3 linked regions of the Homo sapiens genome follow. The protein of the gene in region 1 purifies or fractionates together with the protein of each later gene. This does not show direct contact. Each region holds a gene or a part of one and is shown on either strand. Other genes may lie near its edges.

The links.
Region 2: the proteins of KLK11 (region 1) and TUBB3 purify together in Homo sapiens (affinity purification with mass spectrometry; 3 studies listed by BioGRID and IntAct, with this or other methods). This does not show direct contact.
Region 3: the proteins of KLK11 (region 1) and LOXL2 purify together in Homo sapiens (affinity purification with mass spectrometry; 3 studies listed by BioGRID and IntAct, with this or other methods). This does not show direct contact.

What each region holds. Positions count from the first base shown.
Region 1 is NC_000019.10:51,024,570-51,028,316, forward strand, and holds the start of KLK11 (kallikrein-11 isoform 1 precursor), read right to left. Parts: upstream 2,048-3,747; 5' UTR 1,969-2,047; exon of another isoform or gene 1,928-1,968; intron 1,574-1,927; exon of another isoform or gene 1,452-1,573; intron 1,130-1,451; exon of another isoform or gene 1,098-1,129; coding exon of another isoform or gene 1,063-1,097; coding exon 1,023-1,062; intron 226-1,022; coding exon 69-225; coding exon of another isoform or gene 65-68; intron 1-64. UniProt on the Homo sapiens protein: Possible multifunctional protease. Efficiently cleaves 'bz-Phe-Arg-4-methylcoumaryl-7-amide', a kallikrein substrate, and weakly cleaves other substrates for kallikrein and trypsin. Cleaves synthetic peptides after arginine but not lysine residues.
Region 2 is NC_000016.10:89,933,342-89,936,744, reverse strand, and holds the end of TUBB3 (tubulin beta-3 chain), read right to left. Parts: intron 3,278-3,403; coding exon 3,167-3,277; intron 2,017-3,166; coding exon 941-2,016; 3' UTR 648-940; downstream 1-647. UniProt on the Homo sapiens protein: Tubulin is the major constituent of microtubules, protein filaments consisting of alpha- and beta-tubulin heterodimers. Microtubules grow by the addition of GTP-tubulin dimers to the microtubule end, where a stabilizing cap forms.
Region 3 is NC_000008.11:23,397,382-23,401,128, forward strand, and holds part of LOXL2 (lysyl oxidase homolog 2 precursor), read right to left. Parts: intron 1-3,747. UniProt on the Homo sapiens protein: Mediates the post-translational oxidative deamination of lysine residues on target proteins leading to the formation of deaminated lysine (allysine).

The sequences.
Region 1 (3,747 bases):
AGCTTCTCTCCATCCATCTCCCCATTCCCAGCCCCCCACCCCGGCACCGCCCCAGCCCCCGCACCCACGGCTTGAGGCAGTGGGCTGCTGTCAGGAGCCATCTGGGGGCGATGAGCGTCGCCCCACAGAGTAGCCGCGTCTTCTCGAACAGGGCTGCCTGCCAGGGCTGGGAGTGAGGCTTGCACTCGAACCCCTTGATGATCCTGGTCTCTCCCCCTACAAGCCCTGGAGGGGGTGAGAGCAAAAGAAGGGGCTCAGGAAGGAGAGGTGGTAGACCAGGAGGACTCCCAGAAATGGGGGTGGGGAGGAGAGAAAGAGAGTGGGTGGTCTGGGCCCTGGTCTGGTGTCCCTCTGGGTTGCCCTGGATGCTGGGGTCGGGTATTAAAGGATGAAAATACTTCCATAAGGTCAAATGCAGTGGCTCATGCCTGTAATCCCAGCACTTTGAGAGGCTAAGGTGGGAGGATTACTTGAGCCCAGGAGTTCTAGATCAGCCTAGGCAAACATAGTGAGACCTCCTCCCCCATCTCTACAAACAATTAAACAATTAGCCTGGCTTGGTGGCAGGTGCCTGTGGTCCCAGCTACCGGGGAAGCTGAGATGGCTTAAGGATCACTTAAGCCCGGGAAGTCAAGACTGCAGTGAGCCGTGTTGGCACCACGGCACTCCAGCCTGGACAATAGAGCAAGACTTTGTCTCTGGGAAAAAAAAAAAAGGAAATACTTCCATACTGGTTGGTCAGTAGCCCCTGTCCTGGGCGCTTTGAGTGACTGCTCCCCCAACTCCAGCTTCCTCAGCCCCTCCACGGGACCCTTTACGACCCCCTTGACCTCTCCTCCTTTGGCATTTAAAGGGATTATCTAGAAGGGCATCCAGGCCCTCATGACCACTGCTCCAGTTCAGGTGCCTTATGGGTTGTTCTGTAATTTGGAATCAGCCCTGTCACTGTCCAGACACAGAGGGTTAGGGGATCCCAGAGATTCAAGAGGGAGGATCCTGCCCTGCCCCCATCCCCTGCGTACCTGTTGCCAGAGCAAGCAGGATTAACTGCAGAATCCTCATGGCCTGGAGGGGGGAGGAGCGGGCCCCAGGTTCCTCTGGGAACAAGGAGGGACATGGGGCCGCATCACTTTACGGGGAAATCGGGAGGGGGGGGCTGGCTCATGCCCTCTCCTCTCTCCCTCACCTGCTCCCGCTCCCCACTTGGGAGAAACAAGGTTGGGGAAATCCCCTGTTTCTCACAGCACTCAGATCTCCAAACACTTAAAATATATCTTAGGTGTCTAGGGTGGCCTTGGAGAGGGCCTGGTCACAGCTAGAAGCTTCCGAGATACCAAGAACCATGTGGAAGTCGTTGGGAGGGGCTTTGAGCTGTCAAGCCATGGTTCGGCCCTGTTCAAGTCAGCCATGGGACCTCCCCGGCACATGTCAGAGGATGTTTTCCTTCTTGCCTTGAGAGCTGGCCAGGCCCCAGCAGCTTGGGGTGGAAGGACAAGGGGAACCAGACACCGTTCCGTAGCCACCCCTTTTTCATTGTCTTCGCAGCAGAGCGATATGGAGCCTTTGAGGTCTGCTGGAGGGGAGTAGGGGGCTCAGCCCCAGACAATGTCTGGGACCCCCATCACCCGGCTTGCTGAAGCCCTGTCCGCCAAACCCCTGCCCTTTTGAAGGACAGCCAAGCAAAGCTGGGCGGGGCTGGTCGAGGGGAGGGCCAGTGCCCTCCGCTGCCCTGGCCAGCGGGGGTGGGAGCAGAGGGCCAGCTCAGCAGCTGAAGCCATGGAGATTAGAGGTAACTGAGGCTGCGGACAGCCATCGGAGGTGAGAGGTGTAGAGAGAGGCCAGGAACCCCCACCCAAGCAGAGAAGGACAGAGCAGAGGGAGAAATGGGTGCCCGAGTGGGACAGGTGTCCTTGGGGAGGGCTGACACCTGGACGGGGAGGGGCAGCTTCCCTTTCCTCCTGGACTCACAGGCTCTGGGGCTGGGGCTCTGGGGGCCCAGTGGCGGCGGAGACGGCAGTGGCGGCAGCTACAGCAGGTAGGCTGGGTTGGAGCGCCAGGTGCCAGGCACCAGGCAGGCGGGCTGGCAGGGGGGCGGCCCTGGGCGGGCCCAGGATGACTGGCCTCCAAGCCCTGCCTTAATGCCCCGGGGCGGGGTGTGTGTGAGGGCCCTCCCCGGAGGCCTCTGAGGCACTGGCTGCCTGCCTGTGCCACCTCTCCAAGCCCCTCTTCTCCCTGTGTCTCAGCCTCCCTCTGTCTGTCTGTCTGTCTGCAGCCTTCCTTTCCCTGCCCTGAGTCTCTGAATCTGTGTCTCGTTCTATGTGTCATTCCCTGTCATTCAGTAATTCTGACTTTGTGTGATTTTTCTCTTTCTGTCCCTATGTGTCTGTCTGCCTTTCTCTGTCCTCGTCCCTGTCTCCATCTCCACTCTTCTCTCTCTGTCTGGCTCTGTGTGGCCCTTTCTCTAATTCCTTCTATCTTTGTGTCTCTCAGTCAGTCTCTCTGACTGCATCTCTGGCAATTTGTCTTGAAATCCCTCTTCTTCCATCTAATCTCCGTCTCTCTTTTTCCTCCCGTCCCAGCCACTCCCTCTCCACAGCCCCAGCCCAGGTGGGCCCCTGGCCTCCCCTAGGCCGCTCCCTTCTCCTTTGCAAGGAGAGGGGGGGTGTGCTGGGATGTCACACAGGTGGGGCTGCTGCCAGGCACAGGGGCAGGACCGGAGGGTGGGGGAGGCAGGTCAGGGCCTGTGGAAGCCGAGTCCAGGAAAGGGAACAGAGCCCTTGGCTGTGCTCCACCCCAGGGCTCCTCTGGGGCCTCGCTCCTCTGCTGACCCTTCCCCTGCCCGCTTCTCCCTGCCGCCCAGGCAGCCCGAGTCCAGCTGTTCACTTACTGGCTGCTGTGAGACCTCTGCCCGATGACTTCCAGTCCCGCAGCCACCTCAACCTCTGCATCTGCGGAACCCGAGCGCAGATTCCTGCTTCTCCCAGCTTGTTTGTTTTCAGTTAGGTCCCTTCCCTTGGCTTTCCTCCCCTCTCTCCCCTGACCAGGTGTGGAGCAAGGCAGGGGAGGGCCTAGGTTCTGACAGCAGCCAGCCCTGGCCTCAAACCTAGGTGCTTCCTCTTCCTACTACTATGACTACCCTTATGACGTGGGGACAAGGGACTCCACCCCTGCAAGGCTCAGTTTCTTCATCTGAGAGATGGGGGTGACAGACCTGCTTGCAGGGGAGGTTGGGATCAGGCTTCCAGGAGGGTCCACTTGGAAAGAGCAGACTGCGGGGGGGCTCAGCAAATGTGCCTCCGCTGGTATGATCACCCCTCACTCCCTCCCTCCTCCAGTTTCCCTTCAGTGCATTTGGGGAGATGGTCTCTCCTCACCTCTTGAGTCCCAGTGGAGACAGAATCCAAGGGGTGGGCAGGAGGATTAAAGACGTAGGCTGAGCTCTCCTGCTTTCCAAGCCTGCACTCCACCCTTCGTCTTATTAGAACAAAGCCACGTCCCACATTAAAGATACAATGTATGCTTCATTACAAGAAAGTAAACTGCAGTTGGCTAGTGGAAAGAATGCTACGTTTTATGGACATTGGATTAAATGGTCATAAATGTTGACTTTGCAGCTTTCATCTGGTATTTTGGAGCTAACAATTTTCTTTTTCTTTTTCGGGTCTTTTGTGGACTCTTGAAAAGCTTATAAGCTCTGGGCACTATTTCTATTATGCCAGATGAAGAAACATGTGTCTTATTTATATT
Region 2 (3,403 bases), on another chromosome or scaffold:
AGGAGGATGTGGGGAACCAGGTGAGCGGCTCCTCAGGCCATGCCCTGTGTGGCTGGACACCAAGTATCATGCACCCCAGGAAGGGGCTGCCGGGGGCGGGAGGACTGATACGTCCCTCCCGGCAGCCCAGGCCTGCGTCCTGTGGCCGCATCTCCCTGACCTCAGCAGCCCCTCCCAGGGCCCAGCCCCGAGACACTAAACACACCGTCTTTTTCAGGGAGCACTCGGGGCCCCCTTCCCTACCTCCCTGGTTGTGACCCGAGGCTTCAGGTCTGATGGCAGTTTCCACCGCAGGAGGGACCACCTGCCCCAACTTTCAGCCTACAGACAGGTGGGAGAAAAGTCTGGGGTGCAAGCCGCTCTGTGGGAGGCCAGGGAACGAGTGTGGGGTTATTTCCAAGTCGGGAGGGCTGCATCTTGAGGTCTGGAATGAGGTACTTCCCGTTCCTTCTCCCGGGCTTCCCGTTTCCGGGGTCTCCCCACGGGCTGTGCCTTGAGACACATTCCGGCCCCCAGCGCAGGCCTCTCTCAGCCGCCAGCCTGGGAGAGGATGAGCTCTTCTTGCCTGTCCACCCGGGCCTCCCTGTCAGCCCCTCCACCTACTGGACACAACTTTCCAGAATAAAAGGACATCTCTGGCACCAAGCAAGGGTATCTGACAGCAATAGATTTATTAAGTATCCCCGAAAATATAAACACAAACCAGTAAAAAACAAAACCGTAAAACGTCAGGCCTGGAGCTGCAATAAGACAGAGACAGGAGCAGCTCACACGTGGCCTAGGTGGGGAGGACGAGGCCATAAATACTGCAGGAGGGCGGCAAGGGAGCCCTAGGGCGAGGGGAAAGCAGGGTGTCGGCAGCAAGATGGCTCCGGGGGTTTAGACACTGCTGGCTTCGGCCCCGGCCGCCACCTGCCTCTCACTCCAGCTGCGAGCAGCTTCACTTGGGGCCCTGGGCCTCCGACTCCTCCTCGTCGTCTTCGTACATCTCGCCCTCTTCCTCGGCCGTGGCGTCCTGGTACTGCTGGTACTCGGACACCAGGTCGTTCATGTTGCTCTCGGCCTCGGTGAACTCCATCTCGTCCATGCCCTCGCCCGTGTACCAGTGCAGGAAGGCCTTGCGCCGGAACATGGCCGTGAACTGCTCGGAGATGCGCTTGAACAGCTCCTGGATGGCCGTGCTGTTCCCGATGAAGGTGGAGGACATCTTGAGGCCGCGGGGCGGGATGTCACACACGGCCACCTTCACGTTGTTGGGGATCCACTCCACGAAGTAGCTGCTGTTCTTGCTCTGGATGGCCAGCATCTGCTCGTCCACCTCCTTCATGGACATGCGGCCCCGGAACACGGTGGCCACCGTCAGGTAGCGGCCGTGGCGCGGGTCGCAGGCGGCCATCATGTTCTTGGCATCGAACATCTGCTGGGTGAGCTCGGGCACGGTCAGGGCCCGGTACTGCTGGCTGCCCCGGGCTGTGAGGGGGGCGAAGCCGGGCATGAAGAAGTGCAGGCGCGGGAAGGGCACCATGTTGACGGCCAGCTTGCGCAGGTCAGCGTTGAGCTGGCCCGGGAAGCGCAAGGAGGTGGTGACTCCGCTCATGGTGGCCGATACCAGGTGGTTGAGGTCCCCGTAGGTGGGCGTGGCCAGCTTGAGGGTGCGGAAGCAGATGTCGTAGAGCGCCTCGTTGTCGATGCAGTAGGTCTCATCCGTGTTCTCCACCAGCTGGTGGATGGACAGCGTGGCGTTGTAGGGCTCCACCACCGTGTCTGACACCTTGGGTGAGGGCACGACGCTGAAGGTGTTCATGATGCGGTCGGGATACTCCTCACGCACCTTGCTGATGAGCAACGTGCCCATGCCGGAGCCCGTGCCGCCCCCCAGCGAGTGGGTCAGCTGGAAGCCCTGCAGGCAGTCGCAGTTTTCACACTCCTTCCGCACCACATCCAGGACCGAATCCACCAGCTCCGCCCCCTCCGTGTAGTGACCCTTGGCCCAGTTGTTGCCGGCCCCACTCTGACCTGTACAGGGAGAAGAGGGGTAAGAGACAGGGGCCAGGGACTCTGCAGTCCAGACCTCCAGCCCCTGCCTGAACATCCCAAGGGCAGCCGTGGCAGCCCCATGCCTGTTCTGTCTTCTGTAAAGTAGGCCCCACTGAGCACCCCTTCTCATACCCGCCGTGGCTTCCCTGAGCCGATGCTGCTGAGTGCTCAGGACGAGGGCTCTGGACAGAGTCTTGAGAACTTGGGGTCACAGCAGAGCGAGGCTCTGCCTCCTGAGGGGATCCTGGGTGAATGGATCAGCCCTCCTGCTCCAGCATACCTTCCTTCCGACTGGCAGTGCCAGGAGCCCAAACAGCCACCCCAGAATCCCTGGCAGCTGGGGGCTGGATGCGAGTTGGCATCTACCAGCTGGATGTGCTGCGGTCGGGAAGGCAGAAGTGAAGCGAGGCCCTCCTGTTTCTGTGGCGCGTCCACGGCCCCGCCCCAGGACACAGACATGGGAACGTGGCATCCACGGCCCCGCCCCAGGACACAGGCATGGGAACGTGGCATCCACGGCCCCGCCCCAGGACACAGGCATGGGAACGTGGCATCCACGGCCCCGCCCCAGGACACAGGCGTGGGAACGTGGCATCCACGGCCCCGCCCCAGGACACAGGCGTGGGAACGTGGCATCCACGGCCCCGCCCCAGGACACAGACGTGGGAACGTGGCATCCACGGCCCCGCCCCAGGACACAGACGTGGGAACGTGGCATCCACGGCCCCGCCCCAGGACACAGACATGGGAACGTGGCATCCACGGCCCAACCCCAGGACACAGGCATGGGAACGTCCTGATCTCTTGACCGCAGCAAGGCCTCGTGCTCCTGGACCCCGGAGTCCTCTGGAGGCCCCGTTCTGTCTCACCAGCTCTCTAGCAATTCTGTAAGCTTCTGTCTGCTTTACACTTCATTCCACTTGAAATGCATGAGTGGTTTCTGTTCTCCCCACAGAACCCTTTCTCTGGGCCTCCAATGCCCAGCTGTAAAATGGAGAGATGAGTTCCCACCATTCAGGATCATGTGAGGAGCTGACCATTCCTTGTTTCTCACAGCCGTCCCCGTCCACCGACCTGGGCTTGCCTGTGATGGGGTCTGCCATCAGAGCTTGGAGCAGGGGGAACTTACCAAAGATGAAATTGTCAGGCCTGAAGAGATGTCCAAAGGCCCCTGAGCGGACACTGTCCATGGTTCCGGGTTCCAGGTCCACCAGAATGGCTCGAGGCACGTACTTGTGAGCTGAGGGGAGAGAGGGGCTCGGTGATTCGGGTCACAGAGGGCCAGAGCCTCTCCCTCATTCTTTCTGAATTCTGTGCCCGCCTGCCATCCTCCTGCTCACATCCTAAGAGCCTGTACTCTGAAGTC
Region 3 (3,747 bases), on another chromosome or scaffold:
TAAACACAAAAGCAACCCAAAAAGCCTATGTGGGTATATACTTAGGATCATGTGATTTTACCTAGATATGCTATTCTTGGGGTGGGTGAAATCATCTTTAGAAATATGCTTTTCCGGCCAGGCACAGTGGCTCACGCCTGTAATCCCAGCACTTTGGGAGGCCCAGGCGGGTGGATCACGAGGTCAGGAGATCGAGACCATCCTGGCTAACACGGTGAAACCCTGTATCTACTAAAAATAGAAAACATTAGCTGGGTATGGTGGCGGGCGCCTGTGGTCCCAGCTACTCAGGAGGCTGAGGCAGGAGAATGGCGTGAACTTGGGAGGCGGAGCTTGCAGTGAGCCGAGATCGCGCCACTGCACTCCCAGCCTGGGCAACAGAGCAAGACTCTGTCTCAAAAAAAAAAAAAAAAAAGAAAGAAATATGCTTTTCCGTGGGCATAGTGGTGCATGCCTGTAATCCCAGCTACTCGGGAGGCTGAGGCAGGAGAATCTCTTGAACCTGGAAGGTGGAGGTTGCCGTGAGCTGAGATTGCACCACTGCACTCCAGCCTGGGTGACAGAGTAAGACTCTGTCTCAAAAAAAAAAAAAAAAAAAAAAAAAGAAATGTGCTTTACTCAATTTTATATTTGTAATTGTTTTAGAAAGATATTTAGAAAAGTATCTTTCTCACTACATCTTCGAGTCATGCAGGCACTCTGAAGAGCTATACTGTGTTTACCTTGGTACCCCAGTGGTATATCAGGACAAGCCTGGGGGCAAAAGAAGTTCATGGATCCAAGTTCCAGAAAGATATTATAAAGAAACTGCAAATTAAGTTGTTCACAAGTCATCACCATAAGTTATCTTGTCGTAAGTGTATGTTTTATAGGCAAGTGGCATCATTTTTGCAGAAGATACCCTCAGCACTTTGTTGGCAACACATCAAGGAGGATATGTCTGTTGCCACAGGACATCCAGAGGGCCAGCTGTGTCTGCTTGTCTGACGTGGATCGTAGGAATGAAAAAACTAAAAAGAAAACATCACTCTTTGCTTAGAAGACTATAATTAAATATAATACTTAAGGTATCCCAAGTGAAGGGATCAAAAGCCCTGGACAAGAAGAACCTACTAACTGTGTTCCTAACCACAACCTCAGCATCTGCTGAGTTAGTTCTTGTTCTCATCTGCCACACACACTACTTGCCTGGTAATAGTATTTCTGCCACAGAAAGTGCAAAAGATTTGTTAAAACTCTGGACAGAAGTCTGAACTACACAGTCCCCAGCATCCTTTATCATCATCAACCAAGTGGCTATTCTTTCTTTGTTTTTGAGACAGGGTCTCACTCTGTCACCCAGGCTGGAATGCACTATAGCCTTGACCTCCTGGGCTCAAGCAATCTTCCTGCCTCAGCCTCCTGAGTAGCTGGGACTATACCATGCCTGGCTAATTTTTTTTTTTTGGTAGAGACTGGGTCTCCCTATGTTGCCAGCTATTCTGAAAAGGCGCCTAGAGACGTCCCTGACGCTGGTCACGGTAGAAGGGCTGCCAATACGCTTGGCCAAGAGGTGCTCCCTGCTGAGCAAGCACTGCATTGGACAGCAGTGGGTGCATGTGTGGAATTACTCAGGTGAGAGATTTCTGATGTCTTGCTTCAACTTACACAGGACTGAAGACTTAAGAGACTCAGCTGTGTGTTGCTCTGGTTGCATCTCTGTGAATGTCTGGTTGGCCCTTCCTTTTCTAGCCTGCAACTGCTATTCCCGCCTTGTCTGTGGGCCTAGAGCAGAGTGGCCTCGGGCCACTTCATCTGAGGCCTCATGGACCACCCAGGGTGTGACTGCCATGCAGACCGACCACAAAAGCCTTTCTCCAGGGGGAAATGGACGATGACAGTAACAAGCTGCTCTTTTAAAGCCAGGCAGCCCCTGGGAATGGGAAATCATATCTCCTGCTGTGGTTTGAATAGGTGTCCCTCCAAAAAATTCATGTTGAAATTTAATCCCCAATGTGGCAGTTTTGAGAGGTGGGGCCTTTAAGAAGTGGTTGAATCATGAGTGCTCTGCCCTCATAAACTGATGAATCCATTCACCAATTAATAGATGAATCGGTTATCATGGGAAGGGAATTGGTGGCTTTACAAGAGGAAAAGAGACTTGAGCTAGCATGTTATCATGCTCAGCCCCCTCACGATGGTCCTGCATCACCTTGGGATACTGCCAAGTCCCCACCAGCAAGAAGGCCCTCACCAGGTACAGCTCCTGGACTTTGGACTTCTCAGTCTCCATAACTGTAAGAACTAAATTCCTTTTGTTTAATAAACTACCGAGTTTCAGGTATTCTGTTATAAGCAACAGAAAATGGACTAAAACACCTCCTAAGGCTCCCCAAACTTTAAAATGAAGGAAGCAGTCATGCTTGTGCAACTGCAGCTGCTGGTGTGGAATCACCTAGAAATTCTTCCTCCATGGAGACAGCCTATTAGCTAAGGAAAAAGAATCTATGGCCGTCAGAAGGCAGGGTGATTTAAGGTTAATGTCTTGCCACTTCGGAGTTCCTCCCGTTGGATGGAATCGGGTTGACCAGTTTCTCTGCCTCTAACTGGCTATTTTATGGAAGGTCTGTTCATTCCCTGTTTCAAAGCAACAAGCGTAACAGCAGAACATCTAGGAGTCCTGTGCCAAGAGATTCCTTTTTCCCACATGATCTGCCAAGAAAGGAGAATTCCAACTTATGAGTCTCATTAACAAGGTGGAGAAATTTCTTCTTCGCTCCATTTCAAAAGCAAATAAACTTAAGTAATGAAAATGCTAAAAGCAGAAGGCTCTGGTGTTGTATTAGTCTGTTCTCATGCTGCTAATAAAGACATACCCGAGACTGGGTACTTTGTAAAGGGAGGAGGTTTAATGGACTCACAATGCCACATGGCTGGGGAGGCCTCACAATCATGGCAGAAGACAAAGGAAGAGCAAAGGAACATCTTACATGGTGGCAGGCAAGAGAGCATGTACAGGGGACTCCCATTTATAAAACCATATCTCACGAGATTTACTTCTCAGGGGAAAGATCTACCCCCATGATTCAATTACCTTTCATCGGGTCTTTCCTACAACACATGGGAATTATGACAGCTACAATTCACAATGAGATTTGGGTGGGGACACAGCCAAGCCATATCAGGTGTTGCATATCTTCATTGGTCAAATGCAGAATAAAGTCATGCATAAACTAAGGGCTTCAATGGGAAGCCTATATACCCCTACTTCTCTGTCATAGGATTTGAGGGCTTCAGCATGAAGGTACCAGCTGTCAGAGTACTCAGGTGATGCTCAGAGAGGGGAGATTGTCCTCTACTAGATTTCTTTCTGGGGCCTTTGTTTCTTCCAGGAATCCCAGCAACAGTCATTTCACTCATCCTATTTTTACACCTTGGAGTCAAATAATGAGGAAGTACACTGCTCTCTAGTTCAGAGAGGGCAGCTCTGAGCCCTTACAGTTTTGCAATGAGCTAGGAAACAAACCCTGGCTTCCTGATTTTGCAGTTCATTTATCTCAAGCACCAAATGTCCAATTACTAATATTTACACAGGGATTTCTGACAGCAGGTGTATAGGAAGTGATAAGCCCAGGATGAAGCCTGAGCCAAGAAGAACTCTTCAGAGAGCAGCTGAGAGTCCACGAGTAACATGGAGAACCAGAACCACCGAAGCCCAGCCATGAGGAGGCTGGGTTAGACCCTGGCTCCCTGGGTCACCAGCTGTGC